Linked DNA regions of Homo sapiens: region 1 is linked to region 2. Evidence: fine-mapped expression QTL. A gene starts in region 2. The other region holds a variant in brackets. All regions are shown on one strand. Distances are from middle to middle. Region 1 has its middle 53 kb from the start of MIR7702. Region 2 holds the start of ECPAS (Ecm29 proteasome adaptor and scaffold).

Region 1 (2,913 bases), 270 kb after region 2:
TCAATGTGAATTGCACTTTATGGCTTACATTTTGTTTAGTTAACTTTTCTTAATGTCATCTTATTTTTTTCATACTTTGGTTTATCTTCTTTTCCCACCCACCCTAGTTTTCTCATACTACACCTTCATTTTCTTACTGATTAAAAAAATCCTCTTTACTCTCTACATTCATTTCACTTTGAAATCCTCTTTTGAATAAAGTGTGATACAAAATAAAATGAATAACTTGTTAACTGACCAATTAGTATAAAATCATATATATATATACACACATATATATATGTGTATATATATATACACACACATATATATATGTATATATATATATACACATATATATATATGTATATATATATATATATATATATAAAATAACATAATAGCTATTTGAGTGCTTATTCTCTGACAGACCCTGGGTTAAGCAATTGATAGGCATTTTCTCATGAATCCTTACAACCATCCCATATGGTTGGTCCTATTATTTCCCGTAGTTTTTAGATAAGGAAAGTGATGCTTTGTTTTTTATTTCTGTATCTTTTTTTCTTTATTTGTGAATTATTTAATTTTGAAAGAGTGTGAAAATTTTTCCTTTAGGCTGTTGAAATTTCTGATTTGCCATATCCTAGGAAATAGAAATAATAAAAAGCTGCCAATGAATGTGTATTGACACTAGAAGTATAAGCAGATGCTCTTGGGTTCTCAGAGGTTAAGTAACTTTCCCAGGATCAGTCAATAAGAAGCACTGCAGAACTGTCAACTACATAAAAGAAGTATGTTGCATAAGAAAAATACTGAAGGGAACACAACAAACTCTTAAGTAGTTACCGTGAAACTGGTTATTTGTGCATGTGATTGCTATTTTTCTATATTTTCCAAAATTTTCACAAGTATGTCATTTTAATGAGACGGAATAAAGTTTGTGAACACACTAACCTGACCAAACATCTTAAGACCATTTCAGGCCGGGCTCAGTGGCTCACACCTGTAATCCCAGCACTTTGGGAGGCTGAGGCTGGTGGATCACGAGGTCAGGAGATCAAGACCATCCTGGCTAACATGGTGAAACCCCGTCTCTACTAAAAATACAAAAAAAAAAAAATTAGCTGGGCATGGTGGCGGGCACCTGTAGTCCCAGCTACTTGGGTGGCTGAGGCAGGAGAATGGCATGAACCTGAGAGGCGGAGCTTGCAGTGAGCAGAGATTGCGCCACTGCACTCCAGCCTGGGCGACAGAGCGAGACTCCATCACACACACACACACACACACACACACACACACACACAAAAGACCATTTCGATAATTTCCCATTGACAAATTTGGATTTATGAATGCAGATCTGTTCAGTTATTCACAGTTGTGTGTCTTTCTCTTCCTTGACCAGTTTCCACCCCTGACCATTTTCCCCCTGAATATTTAAACAACTCACAACTGTATAGTATGGAAATTTCACTTCTGCAATGGCCTCTTCAAGTTGGTCCTTTGCCTAATGATCAACTCAAACAAGAAGGGAATGTTTCCTGCTTATGTTTATAAGGTTGGGCATTATCAATGAGGTGGTAAGATAGGGAAGATGTGTCCACAGTGCAAGAGGGCAGGACTATTCTGTGAGCATGCCAGTGAAGCCACACCAACGATACTGCAGTTGTGTAGCCAGATATTGGTATGTGAATAGCAAAAAACCTAACTGCCACACAAATAACCTTTAGGTATCTGGAAAAGCCAGTTTCATTTTCAATGTTTAAAATAGGAGCTCCTTA[A/G]CTTTTCCAGAAAGCTGGGGGTATAAAAAGTCATTAGGGTATAATGGAAAATACACTGCACTGAGATCAAGACCAAATATCATTACTTACTTTTTGTAAGATCTTGGTTAGGAGCCTTATGATTTTTTTAATTTTTATTTTTGGACAAGTTCTCAGTCTGTCGCCCAGCCTGGAGTGCAATGGCGTGTTCATGGCTCACAGTGGCTTCAACCTCCTGGTCTCAAGCAATCTTCCCACCTCAGCCTTGTGAGTAGCTGGGACCACAGGAAGGTGCCACTATACCTAGCTAATTAAAAAAAAAATTGTAGTCATGGGGTCTTGCTGTATTGCCCAGGCTGGTCTTGAACTCCAAGGCTCAAGCAATCTTCATGCCTCGGCCTCCCAAAGTGCTGGTATTATAGGTGAGTGCCACCACACCTGGTCAGATTTTTGAGCCTCAGTTTCCTCACCTGTAAAATGGAGAACATAGTATAACTTTCCTTTCCACTTCAGTCATTTTGAGAATCAAATAAGATAATGTAAATTATAGCTTGTTGTAATCTTTAAAACCCAATACCAATAAAAGGCATCCTTACTTTTCACTGAAATTATTCCCAGATCATTGCATGCCAAAGATGAATTTTTCCTAAAATTAATTACAGTAAAAAACCCCAACGAAACCTCAAATTACCAGGTATTTGAATTTCATCTTTGAAAGTTTGCCGTGTTACAATTCTTCATCCAGTGACATTGAGCAAGAAGAAGAATTAGCAAGTCAACCACTGCAACATATATCAAGATTTATCCTGTGAGCTCAAATCATTTTTCCATTTCTGCTTCAATTTTTTTTTTCACTTATTACATAATTGGTTATTTTTTAGTTTTGAAATAGTACATAAAATTTACCCTTTTCTTTAGACGTTTCTGATTTGCTGTGTTATAGGAAATAGAAATAAGAAAAAGCTGTTAATGAGCAGTTACATGTGGATGCTTCTGAGATCTCTGAATTTCTGAGAAAGAATAATGCACCCCATTTCTGGGATGGTTGGAAATGCTTCACTGCTTTCTGCTTCTACTGACACCAGGACTGCAGAGCAGAGGGGGTAACTAACAGGGGCAAGGAGAAACAGCAGCGATGGATGAGATGGCCTATAAGATGGTCTTTGGTCACAGCAGA
Region 2 (2,913 bases):
GTGTAGTATGAAGTTACAAACAAAAAAGGGTGATGGTAGTGCAGTGTTTTGAATTAACATGGAACAATGTGTGTGAAGGAATAATTGATCCAGAACTTTATTGTAGAAACCTGTCCCCATCAAAGCCATACATGGGGCTGTATATATATGTCCAGAGAAAAGGTCTTCTGCACACTTAACTGTAACTGTTAGTCATAATTTCTCTGCAGAGTGGGATGGTGGGGCTAGGAGGAAGGACTTTCACTTTTAATTTTATGATACTCCAAATCATTTGCATTTTTTTTTTACAAAAATTATGTATAATTTTTCTTTTTTTTTTCTTTTTGAGACGGAGTCTCGCTCTGTCCCCCAGGCTGGAGTGCAGTGGTGCGATCTCGGCTCACTGCAAGCTCCGCCTCCCGGGTTCAAGCGATTCTCCTACCTCAGCCTCCCGAGTAGTTGGGATTACAGGCGCGCGCCTCCACGCCCAGCTAATTTTTGTATTTTTTAATTAGAGACAGGGTTTCACCATGTTGGCCAGGCTGGTCTCGAACTCCTGACCTCGTGATCCACCCGCCTAAGCCTCCGAAAGAGCTGGGATTACAGGCGTGAGCCACCGCGCCCGGCCCAAGATCATGTATAATTTCTATAACAAAAACAATAAAGGAAATAAAAATGTCTTCAGTGTTGTACCTTGTACTTGGCCTATGTTACAACAGGAATGACATATATTCCATTTTTAAGACATTACTTAGGGCTTTATAGATTTCTGCTTTAAGGAATAAATGCAATTTCAATCTATTTAAGACTTGATTTCTTCTTATATAAAAAAAGTATCTGATCTTGTATCTAATTTGTTATGACAGTACCATCACTTAAAGTACAGCAATTATGCAACCCCTGAATTTGAATTTCATTTTGCAAGTGTACATGACCTCACGGACAAAGCGAAGGCAGAAAGTTAAAATCAGCATATCGAAAATAAATCACTCTAGTTACCGAAAAGAACATAGGGTATCTGAACAAAATCTCAGAGCTCACATAGGCATAGATACTTCCATGTGAACTTTAGGAATCTTGCCTTATCTAACTTTTGCAGGGCTGAGTGGACCCCCTGCTCCCGCTAGCCGTTTTGGGAGCACCAGCCACCTCCACACCAGAACTGGGCTGTCGGGGGCCGCTGCGGCGCAGGGGCTCGTCCGGGACTGAGTCAGCGCCGGGGCCGAGAAGTTCGGCGGGAGGCGCAGGGCGGGGCTTCCTCCCGCCGACTCCGAGCCCGGCTCTACTTTTCTGAGTCCACGTCTCTTCCTTTGGACAGGCGTGTTTCCCCAGGTCGGGCCCAGCCAACGTGACAGCCGCAGACCTCGGAAAAGGGCGCTCCGGCCCCGCCTCGAGGATTTCCCCCGGCCGCTAGGGCAGCCCGGGCCCGCTCGGCCCAGCCCCTCACGGACTGCGGCGCGCGGCTCCCCGGGGCCCGGCCCGCCGAACGCCTCGCTCTACAGCCCTCACCTCGCGGCGCCGAGCGCAGCGTCCGCGGCATGGAGACCGGCTCCGACTCAGGTCAGAGGCCCGCCCCCGGGCCGCGGGGGACTGGCCCTGCGCGCGCGGCGGCGCGGTTAGGCCGGGCCGCCCGCACAGGCCGCCGCGTGTCGAGTCCGCGCGGGGAGCGCACGCGGGGCGGGCGGCGACAGGTGGGCAGGACGAGCCGCGAGCGAGCGAGGGCGGGCGGGCGCGCGAGGGGCCCGGCGGGGGGGCCGCTGGGAGGATGGCTCAGCTCTTTCTAAATATAAAACCGGCGTGAGTTGGGCGAGCGCGGCGCGGAGTCGCAGAGCCGCCGCGCGGGCCTGGCGCACGGGGATTCGGCCGCACAGACGGCGGCGGCGGCAGCGGCAGCGGCTCCGCAGAGGCGCGAGGCTGCGGGAGCGCCCGAGTCGCGAGCTCGCGGGGGCAGCGAAGGGCGACGCTCGCGACGCGGAGGACGCAGGCGGCGGCGGCGGGCGGGCCTCGGGGCACAGCGCGGTCCGCGCCGAGTGAACGGAGGCGGCTCGCGGCCCCTGCCGCACCGCGAGCCGCGAGCCCCCCGGCCGCGCCCTGCCCCCCCAGCCCCTCCCTCGTTCCCTCCCCGGCGCAACATGGCTGCGGCCGCCGCCTCCGCCTCCCAGGATGAGCTGAGTAAGTGCCGCGGCCGAACCTGCGGCCGCGAGCCGGAACGGGCGCCGCGCGGTGCCGGGGGCCGGCGGCCGCATGAGGGCTGGGGCGCCAGGCCCGGTGGGCGGGCGGCGGCCGCGGCGTACGGGGAGCTGGGGAGCCCGGGCCTGGCGGACGGGCGGGGCGCGGACCGTCGCCGCTGGCGTTTGTAGGCCTCAGGTTTGCACCGTCACGTTGCGAAATTGAAACCGGAGCCCCGGGCGGAGCCACCTCTGCCCGCGATCCGCCCTGGCCCGGGGTCGGGGGAGCCCAGCCCCCTGCCCACTGAGCCTCGGCTGGCGGGAGGGCCGGAGCCCCGGGGTGACGGGCAGTGTCCGCCCGTCCCGTCTGACCCCGCCTGGCCCCGGGTCCCCGACGGCTGGTTGAGTTATAGAAATGGAGCTTTCGGGAAGGGGGAGAAGGTGCCTTTTTGTGACACTCTAGTAATCAGCCGAAAGGTCACGAATAGGCGGTGACCCTCAGATGGAGCAGGGAGGGCGGAGAGGGTCGCCGGTCGAACCGCAGGAGAAACCACGGGGTGACAGCGCTTTCAGAAAGGAGAGTTAGTGCCCCCTCGATCGTACGCGGTGCAGCCTTCCCGGGGACGGCGGTCCCTGTCTGGGGAGAGCGGTGGTCACCCTGAATCCCAGGCCGCCCCGCCCGCCGCCGGGGTTCGCCTCAATGCTTTGTGGGAAGTGTAGTTCCGGGGCGCCGCGGACCCACGCTGGGGTCATAAATACCGAAGTT

What was found. PIP is the estimated chance that this variant, and not a neighbour inherited with it, causes the effect.
Region 1: its variant is the best candidate, but not a certain one, in a credible set for the expression of ECPAS in fibroblasts (GTEx, PIP 0.75).

Annotation. Positions count from the first base shown.
Region 1 is chr9:111,216,801-111,219,713 of GRCh38, reverse strand. No RefSeq gene overlaps it. Among named protein-coding and RNA genes, the nearest start is that of MIR7702, 53 kb to the left of the region's middle. The variant A/G (reference allele first, on the strand shown) is at 1,758.
Region 2 is chr9:111,482,742-111,485,654 of GRCh38, reverse strand. ECPAS (Ecm29 proteasome adaptor and scaffold) reads left to right here and starts at 1,272. Exons shown (of 50, transcript NM_001364929.1): 1 at 1,272-1,539. RefSeq lists silencers at 1,173-1,712, 1,833-1,952, 2,223-2,642.